Linked DNA regions of Homo sapiens. The protein of the gene in region 1 purifies or fractionates together with the protein of each later gene. This does not show direct contact. Each region holds a gene or a part of one and is shown on either strand. Other genes may lie near its edges.

Evidence for each region.
Region 2: the proteins of MIER2 (region 1) and MGA purify together in Homo sapiens (affinity purification with mass spectrometry; 3 studies listed by BioGRID and IntAct, with this or other methods). This does not show direct contact.

Annotation. Positions count from the first base shown.
Region 1 is NC_000019.10:331,034-334,847, reverse strand, and holds part of MIER2 (mesoderm induction early response protein 2), read left to right. Parts: intron 1-305; coding exon 306-448; intron 449-3,814. UniProt on the Homo sapiens protein: Transcriptional repressor.
Region 2 is NC_000015.10:41,694,861-41,698,674, forward strand, and holds part of MGA (MAX gene-associated protein), read left to right. Parts: intron 1-1,214; coding exon 1,215-2,163; intron 2,164-3,814. UniProt on the Homo sapiens protein: Functions as a dual-specificity transcription factor, regulating the expression of both MAX-network and T-box family target genes. Functions as a repressor or an activator.

The DNA of each region.
Region 1 (3,814 bases):
CTCTTTCTAGTCCACTTGCTCCCCAAATCCTCGCAGGCTTCTCTGTGTTCAGGAAGACAAGCAGTCTCTCAGAAAGAGACACACCCACCCCCCAAAAAAATCCTTGGAATTTGTATGTGCAGCTCACCAGCCGTGCTCCTGTGTGCATTAGTCGTGGGGTGTCCTGTTGGGTTCCCTCATGAGGCTGATCCTGGCAGCATGCAGAGGGCCTCATCCTTAGGGCTTCACCAGGCGTCAGTAGTCTCGGCAGGATGGTTGGGACAGGCGAGGCACGGTGCTCACCTGGGCTGCTCTCTTCTCCCCAGTGGTGTCCATGGGCTCTGGAGACCATCAGTTCAACCTCGCAGAGATCCTGTCACAGAACTACAGTGTTAGGGGGGAGTGCGAGGAGGCCTCGAGGTGCCCAGACAAGCCCAAGGAGGAGCTGGAGAAGGACTTCATCTCCCAGGTACTTGGCCAAGGTGATCCTGCCCCTGTGTTGGGTGGAGCCCTCCGGGGTAAGCCTCATGAGTTTTGTGCAGCTCAGATTCCACATTGGTAAGTGCTAAATTGTACATCTTTTTGCAAAGTGCCAGATGCTGTCCTAGTAGCTGAAATTCAGTGGAGACCAGGTCTTTCATGGGGCTCTCTGAGCAGCACGGTGGTCAAGGATTAAGCCAGCTGCTCTCAAATCTTCTGGTCTCAGAACCTGCTTTGTACTCTTAAAAATTATTGAGAGTTTCAGGCTGGGTGCAGTGGCTCACGCTTGTAATCCCAGCACTTTGGGAGGCTGAGGCGGGTGGATCACTTGAGATCAGGAGTTCGAGACCAGCTTGGCCAACATGGTGAAACCCCATCTCTACTAAGAATACAAAATTGTCGGGCGCGGTGGCTCACACCTGTAATCCCAGCACTTTGGGAGGCCGAGGTGCGCGGATCACAAGGTCAGGAGATCGAGACCGTCCTGGCTAACACGGTGAAACCCTGTCTCTACTAAAAATACAAAAACAAAATTAGCCGGGCATAGTGGCGGGTGACTGTAGTCCCAGCTACTCGGGAGGCTGAGGCGGGAGAATGACGTGAACCCGGGAGACGGAGCTTGCAGTGAGCTGAGATCGTGCCACTGCACTCCAGCCTGGGTGACACAGCGAGACTCCGTCTCCAAAAAAGAAAAAAAAGAATACAAAATTAGCCAGGCGTGGTGGTGCACGTCTATAGTCCCAGCTACTCGGGAGGCTGAGGCAGGAGAATCCCTTGAACCTGGGAGGCGGAGGTTGCGGTGAGCCGAGATCACGCCATTGCACTCCAGCCTGGGCGACAGAGTGAGACCCTGTCTCAAAAAAAAAAATTAAAAAAAATTAGAGTTTCAAGGAGCTTTGTTAATGTGCTTTATCTATTGCTTTTTTATTACATGAAAAGTTAAAACTGACATGTAAATTGGCCGGATGCAGTGGCTCATGCCTGTAATCCCAGCACTTTGGGAGGCCGAGGTAGGCGGATCATGAGGTCAGGAGTTTGAGCCTAGCCTGGCCAACGTAGTGAAACCCTGTCTGTACTAAAAATACAAAAATTGTTGGGCGCGGTGGCTCATGCTTGTAATCCCAGCACTTTGGGAGGCTGAGGCAGGTGGATCACCTGAGGTCAGGAGTTCTAGATCAGGCTGGCCAACATGGTGAAACCCCGTCTCTACTAAAAATACAAAAACAAAATTAGCCGGGCATAGTGGCGGGTGACTGTAGTCCCAGCTACTCGGGAGGCTGAGGCGGGAGAATGACGTGAACCCGGGAGACGGAGCTTGCAGTGAGCTGAGATCGTGCCACTGCACTCCAGCCTGGGTGACACAGCGAGACTCCGTCTCCAAAAAAGAAAAAAAAGAATACAAAATTAGCCAGGCGTGGTGGTGCACGTCTATAGTCCCAGCTACTCGGGAGGCTGAGGCAGGAGAATCCCTTGAACCTGGGAGGCGGAGGTTGCGGTGAGCCGAGATCACGCCATTGCACTCCAGCCTGGGCGACAGAGTGAGACCCTGTCTCAAAAAAAAAAATTAAAAAAAATTAGAGTTTCAAGGAGCTTTGTTAATGTGCTTTATCTATTGCTTTTTTATTACATGAAAAGTTAAAACTGACATGTAAATTGGCCGGATGCAGTGGCTCATGCCTGTAATCCCAGCACTTTGGGAGGCCGAGGTAGGCGGATCATGAGGTCAGGAGTTTGAGCCTAGCCTGGCCAACGTAGTGAAACCCTGTCTGTACTAAAAATACAAAAATTGTTGGGCGCGGTGGCTCATGCTTGTAATCCCAGCACTTTGGGAGGCTGAGGCAGGTGGATCACCTGAGGTCAGGAGTTCTAGATCAGGCTGGCCAACATGGTGAAACCCCGTCTCTACTAAAAATACAAAAATTAGCCGGGCGTGGTAGCAGGCGCCTGTAATCCCAGCACTCAAAGGGCTGAGGCAGGAGAATCGCTTGAACCCAGGAGGCGGAGGTTGCAGTGAGCCGAGATCAGGCCATTGCACTCTAGCCTGGGGGACAGAGCAAGACTGTGTCTCAAAAAAACAAAAAAAATTGACATGTAAAAATACTTATTCGCTAACTCATTTTAAAATGAGCTGAGATGTGCCACTGCAGTCCAGCCTGAGTGACACAGTGAAACTCCATCTCAAGAAAAAAAAAGAATACGAAAATTGCCAGGCGTGGTGGTGCACGTCTGTAGTCCTAGCTACTCAGGAGGCTGAATAAATCAGTGACATGTTAATATAAATATTTTTATGAAAATAAAAAGAACTGTCCCAAAAGAAAAAAAATTAGAAGACTGAATTTTTAGTTTTCCATATCTCTTTGAATGTAGAAGCAAATATGAAAATCCAGCTTCTGTCTTTTTATTTTTTTGAGATGGAGTCTTGCTCTGTTTCCCAGGCTGGAGTGCAGTGGTGTGATCTTGGCTCACTGCATCCTCCGCCTCCTGGGCTCAAGTGATTCTCCTACCTCAGCCTCCCGAGTAGCTGGGACCACAGGTGCATGCCACCACGCCCGGCAAATTTTTGTATTTTTAGCAGAGACGGGGTTTCATCATGTTGGACAGGCTGGTCTCAAACTCTTGACCTTGTGATCTGCCCACCTCGGCCTCCCAAAGTGCTGGATTACAGGCATGAGCCACCACGCCTGGCCAAGCTTCTGTCTTTAAAACATTTATTTATTTTTTTGAGACTGGATCTCACTTTTGCCTAGGCTGGAGTGCAGTGGTGCAATCATAGTTTACTGCAGCCTCGAACTCCTGGGCTCAAGGGATGCTCCTGCCTCAGCCTCCTGAATAACTGGGACTATAGTCGCACGCCACCACACCTCACCAACGTTTTTATTTTATTTCTTTGTGGAGTTCTTGCTATGTTGCTAGGGTTGGTCTCAAACTGTTGGCCTCAAGCAATTTTTCTACCTAGGTCTCCCAAAGTGTTGGGAGTATAGGTGTGAGCCACTGTACCTGACCCAGTTTCTGTCTTTTTTTTTTTTTTCTGGGGACAGAGTCTCACTCTGTTGCCCAGACTGGAGTTCAGTGGTGCAATCTGGGCTCACTGGAACCTCTACCTCTTGGGTTCAAGTGATTCTCGTGCCTTAGCCTCCTGAGTAGCTGGGACTACAGGTGCCCACCACCATGCCTGGCTAACTTGTATTTTTAGTAGAGACGAGGTTTTACCATGTTGGCCAGGCTGGTCTCGAACTCCTGACCTCAAGTTGATCCTGCCATCTCAGCCTCCCAAAATGCTTGGATTACAGGCATGAGCCACGCCTGGTCAGTTTCTGTCTTTTAAGGGAGACATTGATCTGTTGTGATAGGCTCT
Region 2 (3,814 bases), on another chromosome or scaffold:
CCTGGGCACAAGCAGTCCTGGCACCTCAGTCTTCTGAATAGCTGGTACTACAGGCGTGTGCCACCATGCCTGGCTATAAATGCTGTTTTCAGTCATAGGCTTTGAACTATTTAAAAAAAAATGCCCACAATCCTTTGTTACATGTTATTTGTTAGTGAATATATATAGTGGTGTGTATAGTTTTTCTCAAAGCAGTTTTCATCCTGCTTTCCTGTGCTGCTAACGTGTTGACTTGTATGGATATTTTGAGGTGGGGGGAAATGAGAGGTGCAGTTTTAGAATTTCTGAGTCTGAGAATTTTAATTCGTCATTACTTTATGTGGAATCTTTTTTTTTTTTTTCTTTTTTGACACAGGGTCTTGCTCTGTCGCCAGGCTGGAGGCAGTGGCACAATCTCGGCTCTCTGCAACCTCCGCCTCCCGGGTTCAAGCGATTATTCTGCCTCAGCCTCTTGAGTAGCTGGGACTACTGGCATGTGCTACCACGCTGAGCTAATTTTTGTATTTTTAGTAGAGATGGGGTTTCACCATGTTGGCCAGAATGGTCTCAATCTCTTGACCTTGTGATCCGCCTGCCTCAGCCTCCCAAAGTAGTGGGATTACAGGCGTGAGCCATCGCTCCTGCCCAATTTTTTATTTCTACCATATTCTCAAGATACATTGGTACAGTTCTTAGGCTTTCAATGGATGATTGGGAGGAGGGGGAAACTAGATGTTTATGTTGTTTTTGGATGAATTATACACAATATATCTGGGTCATACGTATTTGCCTTTAACTCCCTATCTTTTATTTTGGAAGAATTAGTGGTGAATTCTTTATATTGAAAGTGAGTTTTTCAATTTTAAAGTTGGAAAATCATCTGGCAACATCATGACTATACTAAAAACCAATGAATTGTATACTCTAAAATTGCTGCAATATTATGTTTTATGTTATGTGAATTTAATCTCAAAACATACAGGAAAATATCAGCTGGCAGTTTAATGGCCCTTTCCGGTTTGTGTTGCAATTCTTAGTTGTGATGGATGTGTGTTCGCTTTACAGGGTTGTTAATCACCGTGTGGATTTTTAGAGTTTTTGAGTGTTTTTGAGGAATGGCTCAGGAAATCTGATGTGTTACTTGGATTCCTAACATCTTTTTTTTTTTTTCTCTTCAAGTCTTGTTAATGGATCATTTTGTACTTTTAAAATCCCTTTCTCCTCTCTCTCTCCAGTCTTATTGCCAGCAGTTTTGAAGATGACTCCCGTGTAGCCTCACCGTTAGACCAGAACGGAAGCTTCAATGTTGTTATTAAAGAGGAACCTCTAGATGATTATGACTACGAACTTGGTGAGTGCCCAGAAGGGGTCACTGTGAAACAGGAAGAGACAGATGAAGAGACGGATGTATACTCAAACAGTGATGATGATCCTATACTAGAGAAACAGCTAAAGAGGCACAATAAAGTTGACAACCCAGAAGCTGACCATCTATCTTCTAAATGGCTTCCAAGCAGCCCATCAGGTGTTGCTAAAGCTAAAATGTTCAAATTAGACACTGGAAAGATGCCAGTAGTCTATCTGGAGCCCTGTGCTGTCACCAGAAGCACAGTTAAGATTTCTGAACTCCCCGATAACATGCTTTCCACATCTCGAAAGGATAAATCTTCTATGTTGGCAGAATTGGAATATTTGCCTACATACATTGAAAATTCCAATGAGACTGCCTTCTGCTTAGGCAAGGAATCAGAAAATGGTCTTAGAAAACATTCACCAGATCTCAGAGTGGTACAAAAATATCCCTTACTGAAAGAGCCTCAGTGGAAATATCCTGATATATCTGACAGCATTAGCACAGAAAGAATACTCGACGATTCAAAGGATTCAGTTGGAGACTCACTTTCAGGAAAAGAGGACTTGGGCAGAAAGAGAACAACTATGCTTAAGATTGCAACAGCCGCAAAGGTAGTGAATGCTAATCAGAATGCCTCTCCAAATGTCCCTGGAAAAAGAGGAAGGCCACGAAAATTGAAACTCTGTAAGGCAGGACGACCACCTAAGAACACAGGAAAGTCTTTAATTTCTACAAAGAATACACCTGTAAGCCCTGGGAGTACCTTTCCAGATGTGAAGCCTGATCTGGAAGATGTGGATGGTGTTCTCTTTGTTTCCTTTGAATCAAAGGTAAGATTGTAATTTTCAGGATTCTTTAAGGCTAATTAGTCATACTTGAATTGTATACTGGCTTGTAAGTAACTCGATTTACAATCTAGTTTTGTGATATCTATTTGTGAGGGTGTATGGGGGGTGGAGTTGGGAGGGAAGTGTCTCCAAAATGTTTGGTTTAGTTAATAGGAATAACTTAAGATACTTCATTTGAATAGACTTAAAAAAGTATGTCTTGCTTAGATTTCAGTTTACGATTTTTGCATAGCTGTGTTTAAAAAAAGTCTTCGGGTCTTACTGGAATTTTCATCATTATGGATTTTGGAAAGGACTAAAAATACATGAAATATTTACTAACTCTTTGGTGACGCTCCATTTCTTTTACCTCCTGGTTTTCTTTTATTTTTCTTTTCTTTTTTTTTTTTTTTTGAGACAGAGTCTTGCTCTGTTGCCCAGGCTGGAGTTCAGTGGCACGATCTCAGCTCACTGCAATCTCCGTCTCCCGAGTTCAAGCCATTCTCGTGCCCCAGCCTCACGAGTAGCTGGGATTACAGGCGTGTGCCACCACACCCAGCTAATTTTTGTAATTTTGGTAGAGACGGGGTTTTGCAATGTTGGCCAGCTAATTTCTAACTTCTGGCCTCCAGCAGTCTGCCTGCTTCAGCCTCCCAAAGTGCTGGGATTACATGCATGAGCCACCGCTCCTGGCCCTGGTTTTCAGTAGTAGTAGTAGAGTACCATTGGAGAACCAAATATTAACAGTCATCTTAACTCTCCTGTCTTACACATTGAAGTCTCTGTTTATTCCACTCTGACTCTTCAACCAGATTATTTTTCTTGGAAATTTTTATAGAAGCCCAGTCTTTTTTTATTTATTTTTTGAGATGGAGTCTCGGTCTGTGGCTCATGCTGGAGTGCAGTAGCGCAATCTTGGCTCACTGCAAACTCCGCCTCCTGTGTTCTTGCCATTCCCCTGCCTCAGACTCCCGAGTAGCTGGGACTACAGGTGCTCGCCACCATGCCCGGCTAATTTTTTTTGTATTTTTAGTAGAGACGGGGTTTCACCATATTAGCCAGGATGGTCTCGATCTCCTGGCCTCGTGATCCTCCTGCCTCAGCCTCCCAAAGTGCTGGAATTACAAGCGTGAGCCACTGCCCCTGGCCTCTTTTTTTTTTTTTTTTTGAGACGGAATCTTGCTCTGTCACCAGCTGGAGTGCAGTGGCACAATCTTGGCTCACTGCAACCTCTGTTTCCCGGGTTCAAGCAGTTCCCCTGCCTCAGCCTCCCGAGTAGCTGGGACTACAGGTGTGCATCACCATGCCCAGCTATTTTTTTTATTTTAGTAGAGACAGGGTTTCACCATGTGGCCAGGATGGTCTCAATCTCCTGACCTTGTGATCCACCTGCCTCGGCCTCCCAAAGTGCTGGGATTATAGGCGTGAGCCACTGTGCCAGGCTGTCTTTCTTAATTGACTACACAGATGTTGGATATTTAATCCCTTCTACCTGTTCTTTTCCTCCCTTCTTGTTAGCTGAGTAAGCTATCTGAATATAGGCTCTGAGAAGTGAACATGCAAATTGGCGTATACTTTGAGGTCAGTTAGCTCAGTATGACATCGTATTCACATTTTTTTACTTCCCCCTTTTCCCCTTCTGATTATTAAAGTA